Homo sapiens: one gene and its partner. The protein of the gene in region 1 purifies or fractionates together with the protein of each later gene. This does not show direct contact. Each region holds a gene or a part of one and is shown on either strand. Other genes may lie near its edges.

Evidence for each region.
Region 2: the proteins of ZC3H4 (region 1) and WDR82 purify together in Homo sapiens (affinity purification with western blotting; 4 studies listed by BioGRID and IntAct, with this or other methods). This does not show direct contact.

What each region holds. Positions count from the first base shown.
Region 1 is NC_000019.10:47,110,776-47,117,604, reverse strand, and holds the start of ZC3H4 (zinc finger CCCH domain-containing protein 4), read left to right. Parts: upstream 1-3,828; 5' UTR 3,829-3,885; exon of another isoform or gene 3,886-4,891; intron 4,892-5,015; 5' UTR 5,016-5,020; coding exon 5,021-5,181; intron 5,182-5,346; exon of another isoform or gene 5,347-5,443; coding exon of another isoform or gene 5,444-5,457; intron 5,458-6,648; exon of another isoform or gene 6,649-6,672; coding exon of another isoform or gene 6,673-6,710; intron 6,711-6,730; exon of another isoform or gene 6,731-6,829. UniProt on the Homo sapiens protein: RNA-binding protein that suppresses transcription of long non-coding RNAs (lncRNAs). LncRNAs are defined as transcripts more than 200 nucleotides that are not translated into protein.
Region 2 is NC_000003.12:52,254,627-52,261,650, reverse strand, and holds part of WDR82 (WD repeat-containing protein 82), read left to right. Parts: intron 1-171; coding exon 172-271; intron 272-1,149; coding exon 1,150-1,266; intron 1,267-1,778; coding exon 1,779-1,934; intron 1,935-2,384; coding exon 2,385-2,454; intron 2,455-2,972; coding exon 2,973-3,115; intron 3,116-4,131; coding exon 4,132-4,161; 3' UTR 4,162-7,024. UniProt on the Homo sapiens protein: Regulatory component of the SET1/COMPASS complex implicated in the tethering of this complex to transcriptional start sites of active genes.

The DNA of each region.
Region 1 (6,829 bases):
ATTGCTTGAATCTGGGAGGCAGAGGTTGCAGTGAGCCAAGATTACGACACTGCACTCCAGCCTGGGAGACACAGCGAGACTCTGTCTCAAAAACTAACTAAACAGGCAGGGCACGGTGGCTCACACCTGTAATCCCAGCACTTTGGGAGGCCGAGGCGAGCGAATCACAAGGTCACGAGTGTGAGACTGCAGGGCCAACATGGTGAAACCCCGTCTCTACTAAAAACACAAAAAATTAGTTGGGCATGGTGGTGGGCGCCTGTAATCCCAGCTACTTGGGAGGCTGAGGCAGGAGAATCACTTGAACCCTGGAGGCAGAGGTTGCAGTGAGCCGAGATTGTGCCACTGCTCTCCAGCCCGTGTGACAGTACGAGGCTCTGTCTCAAAAAAATAAAAATAAATAAATAAATAAATAAAAATAAAAAAGTCAGATGAAGTGTCAGAAGGGCTTGGCAGACAATGTTCCACAATGTTCCATCATGACACTGAAGAAGTACAGGGAATTCCTGCTTGGTGGGATTTTTGTTTTCCCCATTACTTAAAAGCAGATGGCCATCTAGAATTGTAGAATGGCCCCATTGAAACTACAGAGATGGGGCCCCTTCAGGACCATACCTTGAAAAGACAATGGCTGTCCTCTTAGATGTGGTCTATGTTCTCAATCAGTGATTTTGTCCATAACCCAGAATACATGAGGTCCAAAAATCAAGGTGTAAAGGAAGGAATGGCACCATCCACAATCGAACATAGTGAGCTACTTTGGTGTCCTTCCTTTCCATTCCTACAAACCTGAAGTATTAGTTCTTGGTGTGTTAAAGAAAACTTTTTGGACAACATAGCTATGAGCATGAGTGAACATTTTATTACAATCTTACATGCAAGGAAAAAAGGTCTCTTGTTGGCCAATTAAGATTCACTCTAATAGGGACATTTTATAGGAGAAGAGAATAATTATCTAACCATTAGATCTGAGATTGGATCCAGAAAGACGATAGTCAGGGTAAAGGTAACACAATTCTTGGCTGGCAACTGGGGTACCAGGTGGGATGGTGGGGGGAGCACCAGCTTCTTAAAACAAGTTTCATCCACTGATGATTTATTTTAAGCATTTTGTCAGGAATTTTCTTCTCGCTGTGTCACCCAGGCTCTAGTGTAGTGGTGTGAGCTCGGCTCCCTGCAACCTCTGTCTCCTGGGTTCAAGCGATTCTCCTGCCTCAGCCTCCTGAGTAGCTGAGACTACAAGCAACTGCCACCACACCCGGCTAATTTTTTTTGTATTTTTAGTAGAGACAGGGTTTCACCACGTTGGCCAGGCTGCTCCTGACCTCGTGATCCACCTGCCTAGAGTTCTCAAAGTGCTGGGATCACAGGCGTGAGCCACTGTGCCTGGCCTTATTTTTATTTTTATTTATTTATTTTTTTTGAGACAAAGTCTCCACTGGAGTACAGTGGCATGATTATAGCTCACTGTAGCTTCAACCTCCTTCAACCTCCTGGGCTCCAGTGATTCTCCTGCCTCAGCCTCCCAAGTAGCTGGGGCCACAGGTGCATAGCATGAAGCCGGGCTAATGTTATGACTTCTTTTTTTTTTTTTTTGAGACGGAGTCTCGCTCTGTTGCCCAGGCTGGAGTGCAGTGGGGCTATCTGCAAGCTCCACCTCCCGGGTTCAAACCATTCTCCTGCCTCAGCCTCCCGAGTAGCTGGGACTACAGGCGCCCGCCACTATGCCCGGCTCATTTTTTGTATTTTTAGTAGAGACGGGGTTTCACTGGGTTAGCCAGGATGGTCTCGATCTCCTGTCCTCGTGATCTGCCCGCCTCGGCCTCCCAAAGTGCTGGGATTACAGGCGTGAGCCACTGCGCCCGGCCATGTTTTGACTTTTTGAAGAAACTGGGGTCTCACGATGTTGCCCAGGCTGGTCTTGAACCTCTGGGCTCAAGCAATCCTCCTGTGCTAGAATTATAGGCATGAGCCACTGTGCCGGCTGCAACATTTAATTTAATTAAAGTCTTTCTGTCACTCAGGCTGGAGTGCATGATCTTAGCTCACTGCAACCTCTGCCTCCCGGATTCAAGCGATTCTCCCCTCAGCTTCCCGAGTAACTGGTGATTACAGGTGCCGGCCACCACGCTTGGCTAATTTTTTTTTTTTTTTTTTTTTTTTTTTGAGACGGAGTCTTGCTCTGTCATCCAGGCTGGAGTGCAGTGGTGCCATCTTGGCTCACTGCAACCTCCACCCCCTAGGTTCAAGCGATTCTTCTGCCTCAGTCTCCCAAGTAGCTGGGATTACAGGCGCGCCACACCATGCCTGGCTAATTTTTTGTCTTTTTAGTAGAGACGGGGTTTCGTCACGTTGGCCAGGCTGATCTCAAACTCCTGACCTCAAGTGATCCGCCAGCCTCGGCCTCCCAAAGTGTTGGGATTATGGGTGTGTGCCACCACGCCCCGCTGCCAGCTGGAACATTTAAAAAACAGTAGGATCCGCTGGGCGCGGTGGCTGACGCCCGTAATCCCAGCACTTTGAGAGGCCGAGGCGGGCGGATCACGAGGTCAGGAGATCAAGACCATCCTGGCTAACGCGGTGAAACGCCGTCTCTACTAAAAATACAAAAAATCAGCTGGGCGTGGTGGCGGGCGCCTGTAGTCCCAGCTACTTGGGAGGCTGAGGCAGGAGAATGGCGTGAACCCGGGAGGCGGAGCTTGCAGTGAGCCGAGATCCGCGCCACTGCACTCCAGCCTGGGCGACAGAGCGAGACTCTGCCTCAAAAAAAAAAAAAAAAAAGTAGGATCAATATACCAGGAAGTCACATGGTGCCTCTGTCTCCAGATTTATCACTGTTGACACGGTTTTTCTCTCTTCCTGGAATCTAAGTGGTCTTTGCTTTGTCAGGGCCTGAAATAAGGTATTTCTTTTCTTTTTTTTTTGAGACAAGAGTCTCACTCTGTTGCCCAGGCTGGAGTGCAGTGGCATAATCTCGGCTCACTGCAGCCTCGCGACCTCCCGGGATCGGGCGATTCTCCCTCTTCAACATCCCGAGCAGCTGGGACTACAGGTGTGAGCCATCATGTCCTGCTAATTTTTGTATTTTTAGTAGAGAAGGGGTTTTACCATGTTCGTCAGGCTGGTCTCCAACCCGAGCTCAAGCGATCCGCCCGCCCCGGCATCCCAAAGTGCTAGGATTACAGGCGTGAGCAACATCGCCCCGCCTGAAATAAGGTATTTCTTCTGCCTGGAACCATCTCTTCTTTTTCATGTACCAGCCTAAAAGAACAATTACAAGACCCTCCTCTAACACTCCACCCACCCCCTTTATTCTTTAACTCTGTTTCTCTCCCTTGGGGCATTATCGGTTAAGTTCCATGAAGACAGAAACTGTTCCCATGCTCCATCACAGGGACTGGCACTGTAGAAAGAGCTAACAAGTATTTAAGGAAGATCCCTGGATTCGAGGTTACAGTGAGGTATGATCGTGTCACAGCACTGCAGTCTGGGCGACAGAGCAAGACTCTGTCTCTTAAAAAAAAAATCTTGCTGTGCTTTTTAGAACTAATCCTATGACCGTGAACCGATTACTTAAAACACCGAACTTCAGTCTGCAAATGGGAATAGCAGCAGCTTATGTTAGGACGGTTATGAGGGTCAAAAGATTTTGTTTGTACAGTCTACGACACCGGCCAGTGTTTCTAGCTCTGCTATTTGAGAGCCTTCCATGGGTCCTACACCCCAGGTCCTTAAACTCCCCTGAGGGACTACCAAGCCCCGCCCCTCTCGCATCCAATGATGACATCATCGACTGGGTTGTCGAGTGACGTCACCTCCGGGCTGGCTGGGCTTCATCGCTTCTCCGGAAACCTCCGACTCTCGGCACCTGGCCTCCAGCTTTCGGTTATTTTTTTTTTCCCTCTCCGTAGCCTGAATTCCTTCCCTCCCATTCTCCCACCTAAAACTATTGGCTCTTCCCGCCTTCCTTCAAACTAGCAATTTTCGGTTTTTCCCTCTTGCTCTCCGGCGAATTCCTGAAAGTCGTTTATTCTCCCCTTCAGCCCCGCCCGTTCAGCTCATTCTCTTAATCGCATTACCCTGGCTGCTTTTCTTTCGGCTGTTTCCACCTCCTGCCACCCACCCGGACACCGCTTTCGGCTCTTTCCGGACCGTCTCAGTTTCTCCTCCTTCCCCGGTCCCGATCGGCTTAGGCTATTTATGGCTCCCCTAGGTTTCTCATGCTCTCTCTAGCCCCACCCATATCACCACCTTCAGCTCTTTCTGGCTCTCCCCCGTCGCCTCCTCGCTCCTGCTCAGCTCCTTTCGGCTATTTCCGCCTCCCCTCGGCCTCGCCCTTTGCCTTCGGCTCTTTCCGCCGGCCTTCGGGCAAGCGGTCTCTACCCCTCTCCTGCACGTGACACGGCCTCCGCCTCCGCCTCTCAGTTCCCCCTCCCATCTCACCCTTCCTCCCGCCTCAGCCTCTAGGCTGGTTCGGGCCGAGCCGCCATTTTGTGTCAATTCCTGATTGCGGCGGGGGCCGGGCAGCCGGGGCACCCAGGGCGGGCAGAGAAGGGAGACAGTCGGCCCGTCTCCGCGGCCCGTTCCCTCTCTCCCTCAAATCCTTTTTTTCTTTTTAACCCCCCACCCCCCTCGCTCGCTCTCCTCTTCTCCCCTTACCCTTCGCTTGCTCCATCGCGCGCGGCCCGCGCTAATTACACCCAACCACCCACCAGTGTCCGTGTCTCCCGGGTGTCCCGCCCCCCGGGGGTGCGTGGGGGGGGGGCTCTCGCCCCTATGAGGGCCCCGCGCCAGTGAGCGAGTGACCGCAAGGGTGGGCTGCGGAGAAAGCAGGCGGCGAGCGGCCCTCCGAGGCCTAGGCCGTGCGGCCTACGCGGAGGTCAGCGCAGAGGTGATTCCGAAACCGAAAAAATATATACCCCATTCCCATCAGGAGCCCTCCGAGCTTAAGTGTGCCCCTCCCGCCACGCCCAAGCAGTCCTTTTTCGTGCATTAACATCCCCTCCCCCCCAAAGGAACTATGGAGGCCGCGCCCGGGACCCCCCCGCCGCCGCCATCAGAGTCGCCGCCGCCGCCATCGCCGCCGCCGCCATCAACGCCTTCGCCTCCTCCGTGTTCCCCCGACGCCCGCCCGGCCACCCCGCACCTCCTCCACCACCGCCTCCCGCTCCCTGACGACAGGTCAGGCCCCCGGTTGGGCCGGGGCTGCGTCCCCGGGGGGAGGAAGAGGAGGAGGAGGAAGGGGGGCGGCCGCCATGTTGGGCCGGGCCGCGGAGGAGGAGGAGGAGGAGGAGGAGGAGGAAGGGCGGGGTCGGTGGGTGTCTCTCGATCGCTTGCTCGCTCGCTCTTTCTCGCTTGCTTTCTCTCCCGGCCTCATGCGTTTCCCCCCCCTCGCGGCGCTCGCCCGCTCTCCCTCGCTCTCGCTCTGTCTTTTTTGGGCGCCATGCTGAGGGGAAGGTGAGGAGGCGCCCCTCGGACCCCCCGCGCCCGTCCGCCTGTCCTGGGGAGGGGGCGCCGTGGGGGGTGCTGCGGAGACCCACGGGGGTCCTGGCTGCCCCTGCGCCCGGAGCTGGCAGCTACGGGCCCGCTTGCCCGTCGCCTGGCTTCGGGGAAGGGGATGGGGGAGGGGCTCCGGACCCTTTTTGGGGGGATCTCGAACAACAGCCCCGCTCTTAGGGGTTTGGGGTTGGGGGTCTCCCAGCCCCCGGCAGTATCCTTTCTCCTGGGGGAGGCACACCCTGTCCTACTTGGATGATAGGTACTTTAGCTTAGGAGGCAGAAGGTGGGGGTTCATTCAGGTCCCTTCTCCATCCTTGTAATTGGGGGTCATTTGGGTGGGTGCTCTATAGCACTTGTATTTTTTGGCGGGGGGTGTTTTTTAGCTATCCCCTAGAAGGCCGAATTGGGGAGGGGGGAGATGCATCTCCAGCCCTTTTGATGAAAACCCCAGCCTATTTTTTTAGAGAAGACTCTTCCCCGTGTTTTTGCTAAAGGGCAGGGGTCCTCTCGCTTTTCGTAGGTAGGTGACGTGAGGGAGGATTCTCAGCCTTGTTTTGCGGGGGTAAGGTTTGGTTTCCCTGCCTTGTAGGGAGAGGAAGTTGGTCCCGCGCTTTCTCCTGGGGTTCCCCCCTCTGTCGGGGTAAAATGGGGCACCGTCTCTTCCGGGAGAGAAAAGGAGATTTCCTTGTGCTTTGGCAGGGCGTTAAAGGAAGCGCCCCCTTCTCTTTATTAAGTCCGAAACGCGGGCCCCCCACGCCCTTCTCTGGCTGGCGGGTGATAATGGGGTCAGCCCGGCGCGTTTCAGGGCGAGGTTGGGGCCCCGTTTCCTTCCCCTGCTCGAGCAGAAGGAGTTGGGGTGCAGGGTTCGCCCACTGTTTCCTGGTGGGGCGAGAGAAGAGGCGGCTGGAGAGTAGGTTTGGACACGGACGGTGGGTTTCAGCCGGCAGGAAAGCGAGTCTTGGAGGGAATGGGGGTGGAGAGGGGAAGAGAACGCTCTGGACAGATGGCTACTCCGTCGCAGCCCTGGCTGGGGAGCCGCTGAGGACCCTTCCTTAGCCGGGGGGTCTCAGCCAGGGCTTCCCTTGCCAGGCTGTACGTACGACCCCTTCTCCCCACTCCCACCTCCCCTTTCCCCTTTCTCCTTCACAGACCATACTTTGCCTTTTAAAAGAAATGCCACCCACATTCAGAGACACAAGTGCAGCAGTTTGGTGAGCTTTTACAACATTTTTTTTTTCTGTTTTGTTCTAATTAAATGTATCGTCCTGGGAATCGCAGCCCATCGCAGCCCGACTCCAGTTCAAGGAAATAAACAGATTAGCAAAGGTCT
Region 2 (7,024 bases), on another chromosome or scaffold:
CTTTGTTTGTTCCAGATATGGTTGTGGTATGTGTGTTTTATTGTGTTTCTTAAAATGGCAATTTTGGGAGAACAGGTATATATATGTATAGATAGGCAGAGTGGTTTAGAATTCACATCCAATTTTTGCTAATATTTCGCATCAACTCCTATTTATCTCGATGTATTGCAGGGTGGTGGCCTTGTCCATGTCACCTGTGGATGACACTTTCATTTCTGGGTCTCTTGATAAGACCATTCGACTCTGGGATCTCCGGTCTCCTAACTGCCAGGTAATGGTACCTCACAGTTATACTTTTTGAGCATTTTCTTTGGTAGGCACTGTAATGAACTCTACCTCTCAAAGAAGGGAGAAAACAGTGGTTCCATTCTGGGATCACAGGGTCTTTTTAAACTTTGGAGAAAATCTGTTTTTTTAGTTGGTAGCTGCTAAGCACATACCCTAATCTAGTGCAGATTGCATTGTACTCTGTGGCTTAATTGTTGTGGGTTTTTTGTTGTTTTGTTTTGTTTTTGTTTTTGTTTTGAGACAGGGTTTCGCTCTTGTTGCCCAGGCTGGAGTGCAATGGTGCAATCTCAGCTCACCGCAACCTCCACCTCCAGGGTTCAAGCGATTCTTCTGCCTCAGCCTCCCAAGTAGCTGGGATTACAGTCATGCACCACCATGTCTGGCTAATTTTGTATTTTTAGTAGAGACGGGGTTTCTCCATGTTGGTCAGGCTAGTCTCCTGACCTCAGGTGATCCTCCTACCTTGGCCTCCCAAAGTTCTGGGATTATAGGCGTGAGCCACTGCGCCCAGCTGGCTTAATGTTTTTAAAAGTGTTCCTAGAGCTTTTAGCTTCAAGGGATTTATTTTTATTTGAATTCTGTGTCTGTAATATTGTGCAGTTAGAGTTGATCAGAAATTGTTGTCTGGAGACCTGTTTTTTAAAAGCTTCATTTTAGTTTTATGTTTTTTTTGTGTGTGTTCTGTAGGTAGGCTGATATTTGTTTGTATGCCTTTCTTAGTTTTAATTGGGAAAAGTAAATTATATAGTGGTAAGGTCCTGGATTCATTTTTTTTTCCCCATTGTACCAGCAGTCTTTGGTTATTCCACGTATGGTTGTGGCATGTGTGTTTTAGTGTATTTCTTATTTCTTTTCTCTTAGGGCCTCATGCATCTGCAGGGGAAGCCAGTTTGTTCTTTTGATCCAGAAGGGTTAATTTTCGCTGCAGGTGTCAACTCTGAAATGGTCAAGCTTTATGACCTTCGTTCTTTTGATAAGGTAAATCTTTGAATCTTTGAGATCTTTGAGCTGTTTTTTGTTTTGTTTTGTTTTTGAGACAGAGTTTTGCTCTTATTGCCCAGGCTGGAGTGCAGTGGTGTAATCTCAGCTCACTGCAACCTCTGCCTCCCAGGTTCAAGTGATTCTCCTGCCTCAGCCTCCCAAGTAGCTGGGATTACACGTGTCCGCCACCACGCCTGGCTAATTTTTTGTATTTAGTAGAGATGGGTTTCACCATGTTGGTCAGGCTGGTCTCAAACTCCTCACCTCTGGTGATCCACCCACCTCGGCCTCCCAAAGTGCTGGGATTACAGGCGTGAGCCACCGCGCCCGGCCCTGTAAGAGCCTTTTCTACAAAAGGAAAAATGTGGTAGATATTAGAGAGTGGCAGAGAAGTAGCTCATTCTCTGCTTTCCTTAGTCAAAAAGTAATCTAAAGGAATAGGATGGGAATTGGCTCTAGCAGAAGAAATTATTAATATGCCTGGGGCTACTGTTTTTTATCTTTTGCAGGGGCCATTTGCTACCTTTAAGATGCAGTATGATCGAACTTGTGAGTGGACAGGACTTAAATTCAGCAATGATGGCAAGCTCATCCTCATTTCCACCAACGGCAGCTTCATTCGTCTGATTGATGCATTCAAAGGAGTGGTGATGCACACATTTGGGGTGAGCTGACAGCCTTCAAGCATGGCTGTTTCCATGCTCATACTTCCTATGCTAAGAATTATGTTAGCTGGTTGGTGGAGACCAACAGTTACTCTTGACTTACTCATGAAGGCATGCACTTGTATTTTCTTCCTGCTCATGAACTTACCTCTCTTGGATTTCGTAGATGTTCATTTCTCACCAAGTGACCCAAGTTTGGTATTTAGATATAAAATAATTTCCTAACAATAAAGTTTTCTTGCCCCCTTGAGTATGCCTTGAATACAGAGTTGAGGGTGGGAGTGGATTGTCAACGATGGCAACCACATTTGGAAGCTTGGTGGTGTAGTACATGACAAGGAAAGGGTTTCATGGAAAGGAAGGTGATGCATGTGCTGAGTCAGTGTTTGTAGGCAGCTGTTTTTATTAATGGCTCTGTAAGAACAAAAGAACTGCTCTGTTTTGTTTTAGGGTTATGCCAACAGCAAAGCTGTCACACTGGAGGCTTCATTTACTCCAGACTCTCAGTTTATTATGATTGGTGAGTTTCCTTTTATCCCCTGTGGGGGTTATTTCTCTGGTACTATGCATTTCTTTGTTTAAATTATTAACTGAGACATTATTATCTATTTGATAGATGTTCTTAGATTTCTGTATAGCACATTATGCCAAGGACATAGTGTCTTTTAACTGCCCTGACTGGACCAAAATTTGAGTTAAACTCCACAAGCACTACCTTATTAGTAATGCTAATGTCCTGGTGTAACCCTACATTCAGTCATCTTAGTGGCTGCCTGTTGGTAGGGTAATGGTATTCGGCCCCTTTTTTAGATGAGAAAACTGAAGTTAGAACGGAAGTGACATGCCTGTGAACAAATAGCTAGGGTCAAGATAAATTTCCAAAGTGTCCTTCCTTCACTGCCTCTCCTCCCTCTCAATTTTGCCTGAGGGATGGGTCCTAAAGCTTGGCGTATCCTCAGATCTCAATCCATGTCTCATTTCCAGTTGTCTTTGTATTGCGCCTTGAGCTGTTACATTTTCCGTGAATATCCTCTTTAGGTTCAGAGGATGGCAAGATCCATGTCTGGAATGGAGAGAGCGGTATAAAAGTAGCTGTGTTGGATGGTAAACACACAGGCCCGATTACCTGTTTGCAATTCAACCCCAAGTTCATGACTTTTGCCAGTGCGTGTTCCAACATGGTATGTGAACAGTAAGAGGTATCTGCTACTCAGGGACCCTTCCCAGTTGGGGTGGTGGGTGCCTCAACAAGCACAGCAAGCTGTGTTCTACATAGGTACATTACAAGCATCCAAGTACATGTTTCTCAACTGGTGGTTTCCCTATTTCATCTCCTATTATTTGATCTCTGGCTGGGCTGGTCTTGCCTTTCATTTTTATTCTTCCTAGAGGTGATCAGGAATCATCTTTGAGTTCCAAGGAGATCATAGGCCAGTTTTTGCTCTGGACCCTAATTTTAGGTCCAAACTACCTGGGCTATGCTTGGCAATTTTTTTGCTCCTTAAAATACTCTGAACCGGCCTTTTGTGGTTTCAGTTTTCCATTCCTGTTGGTTTACGCCAAATTCCCAGAAATTTCTACAGTTGGTCATAACTCACCACTTAGAATTAACTCCAGGCCCTTATCTCTTCCTAGATAATACTAACAGAACAAAGGATCAGTGAGTCTCAGCTCCAGTTTTCCCTTGTGATCTCCTAAACCTGCCTGGGTATTCGGGGATGAGACATTTCATTACTAGCCTACCCGGAGCACATTGCCACCTTGCTTTTTTTTTTTAACCAAGAAAAAAATGTTAGAAAAAATACAGCAAAACCATCCAGTTCCTTACTTTTTACAGCCCAGGAAGGTGGGGGCCTGTTGGAGGTAACCTGGTGGATTAGCAATGAGGACAGGTTACTTATTCACCCACCTCCCAGGCAGCACTCCTTTTTTTCCCTTCCTTTAAAAAAAAGGGGGCGGGGGGTCTGCTTTGGTGGAAGGTGGACAGTGATTATTGGAGAAAAACAGAACCATTTTACTTTCACATAGAGGAAAGAGTGTTTCTGTCTCCTTAGAGCATCGGGGTTGGTTGGTTAGGAGAGAGGGCTACCAGAGCCACTGGGGTTGGGCACATTTTTGCTGTGGGGTGGGATGTGAAGAACCGTTGGCAGTGAGGAGATGCTTGGCTTTTTAAAGTTGATTTATGTTCTCCTTCTAGGCCTTTTGGTTGCCCACCATTGATGACTGACCCTGTTGCTGCTTGGCTATTTCTGTATAGTGAGGGCGGCCAGCAGGAAGAAACTCAGAGGGAACTGAGATAATAGTGGGATTGGATCATTTGACTGGGCTGGAGAACATCCTTTTACATGGCCTTCCCATGGATGTGCTGTACATCTGCTCAAAAGAAAATAATTACTTTGATGAGCGTCTTCAAAAGGACTCTTGGTGCAACAGACTCAATTGGAACTCAGCTTTTCTAACTGTCACTGCACCAAGCTCTGCTGGAGGAGTGACCAGACTCACGATTTGGTATAGTGGGGCTCTCAAGCATCTTCAATTTGAATGTACATGCTGCTGAGGAGCCGGTGAAGTCATCAGTTCCGCACATCCCTTCTACCCTCCAACTGCATGGGAAGCCAAAGTCCTGGTTTTGAAATGCTTGGGCAGCTCAGCCGCTTGCCCTCACCCTGCATGTCTTGTTACTGGGTCTCCCTGTGTACTTGTGGCATTATCCACAACCATCATGTTTCTTAGGTGCCAAACATTTACAGAAACATTTTCATATATCTTGGGGTCAGAGAAAGGGACAGATACAGAAGGACCTTGCTTGCAGGAAGCCATGCAGTTAGTTTCTGCAGTTAGTCGTGTGAGGCTAGGTGGTTGGGCAGGCCTCGGGCTGTAGGTGTTGGGTGGGAAAAAGACCCAAGGGCCTGAAAGGGAGGGAAAGGGGAGGGTAGCGGGAGGGTAGCAGGTGAGTTCCTAGGGCTGGAAGGTTTAGCAGCAGCCTGGTGCAGTGCCCTGTCATCAAGACAAACCCACGGTCCTCCTGGGTGCCTACCAAGCTTGGTTTGTACAAAAGCAAGGTGGGAGTCTATTTTTGTACATGAGATACATCACACTTACCTGTGGGCCAGTATTGTGAAGTGAGTCTGAGTTGTTTACACTGATGCCTTCCCTGCCCACCACAAATTGTGTACATAGTCTTCAGATGATACCACCCCTTTCCCCAGCTCCCAACCAAGAGCTGGTTCTAGGCCTGTGTTATATGTCATATTTAGCGTTTTTATATATGACCTTTGATTTCTGTTGTTTGTATTTTAGCACAGTGTATGCACCTTCATTTAAATACATCTGTGTGCATACAGATACGCATATATGTGTGTGCGTATGCATATATCTCTCATCTGTAGTTTCCAAGAGTTCAGCTGAAGCAGATGGAGTCCTGCAGCCCAGGAGACACCCTGCATCCCTGCTAATAGTGTTTGCCACAAGTATTAGTGAGTCTTCCTTATTAATATTTTCATTTCAGAAGACTGAAGCAAAGCTGATAGTGTTTGCTGTTTCTTTGGCAGCTAAGTGAGGGTCTTGGGATGACTTGCTGTGTTCCTCAAGCTGCACTTTGGGGCCATCTCTGCAGTATTAGCCCCCTTTTTGCTTGGTGGTACTCTGTCTGTGCCTGTGTGTGTGTGTGATAGTCACTCTTGCATGGCTTCCATGTCTGGTTTGTGGCATTTGGGGATAAGGTGCTGAAGCCAGAGCATTTGCAGTTTGTTTGAGGCCTCGTTGCCAATGATAGATCACTCCTGTTGACCTGGTATGTCTGCTTGCTTGCTGCTTTTCCTTGCTTTCTCTTGGAAGAGGAAAGGACTCTGGTCAGGCCCAGGCTGAGTGAGATGAGCTGCAGCTGGCTCATGGCCTTCTTAGAGCAGAGAGAGGAGTATGTCATTTTACTAAGTTCCTAAACAAACATTTATGCAGGCAACACTCCTTGCAGATCCAGAAACTGAGGCACAATAGGGTTATGACTTGCTCAAGAATATGTAGCTGCTAGGGGGTAAATCAAGGCATCACAATTTCTGTTCAGCGGGCAGGAATAGGCTGTGAATTGCTAGCACTTTTTTTTTTTAAGCAATTACTTTTTGACTTGTTCCTCTGAAAGTGCAAGAGGCGTACACCTTTCCCAAATGTAGACTAGAATCTGCAGGATGCCACCCACTGTATAGTTCTGCTTTCCCAGAGAGGAAGAACTTTTAGAAACCAAATGATCTTAATTGTTATTGCCCACCCCTGGCTTTTCCGGGTAGAAAATTCACAGTAGGAATGATTGTTAAGAGAGAGTGCTTGGAACCATGGGTTAACAGGAAAGGCTACCTAACTTCACATATCTGCAACCAGAGCAGCCACCAAGCATTACTTAGCAGCAGGAAAATGATTGTATTTGAGTTCCTGTGTGTCCAAAACTGAGCACCATGTTCTTTGAAAACATGCCACCTCAAGGCTGGGCGCGGTGGCTCACACCTGTAATCCCAGCACTTTGGGAGGCCGAGGCGGGCGGATCACCGGAGGTCGGGAGTTTGAGACCAGCCTGACCAACATGGAGAAACCCCATCTCTACTAAAAATACAAAATTAGCCGGGCGTGGTGGCATGCGCCTATAATCTCAGCTACTTGGGAGGCTGAGGCAGGAGAATTGCTTGAACCCAGGAGGCGGAGGTTGCGGTGAGTTGAGATCGTGCCATTGCACTCCGGCCTGGGCAACAACAGCAAAACTCCGTCTCAAAAAAAAAAAAAAAAAAATGCCACCTCACAGTCTCTATCGTTGGGCCCTGTGGTTGCAAAGCTGCCTCCTGAATTAAGAAGGAAAGGGAAAAGATATAGCTGGAAGCGAGTGGAAGAGATGCTGAGGGCTGGGGCTGCACAGACGTGCTCAGCAGGGCTACAGGTGCTCAAGCCCTATTGGGGATGGGTGGGGAGTGGGGCAGCGGCGTTTGCCACCTTAAGAATTGGGGCCAAAGCCACTGATGTTTATTTGACAGTGACACTGCACTGGGTACTTAAAGAAATTATTTCCCGTTGTAATTATAATTACTGCTTATTAAGGAAAATATGGG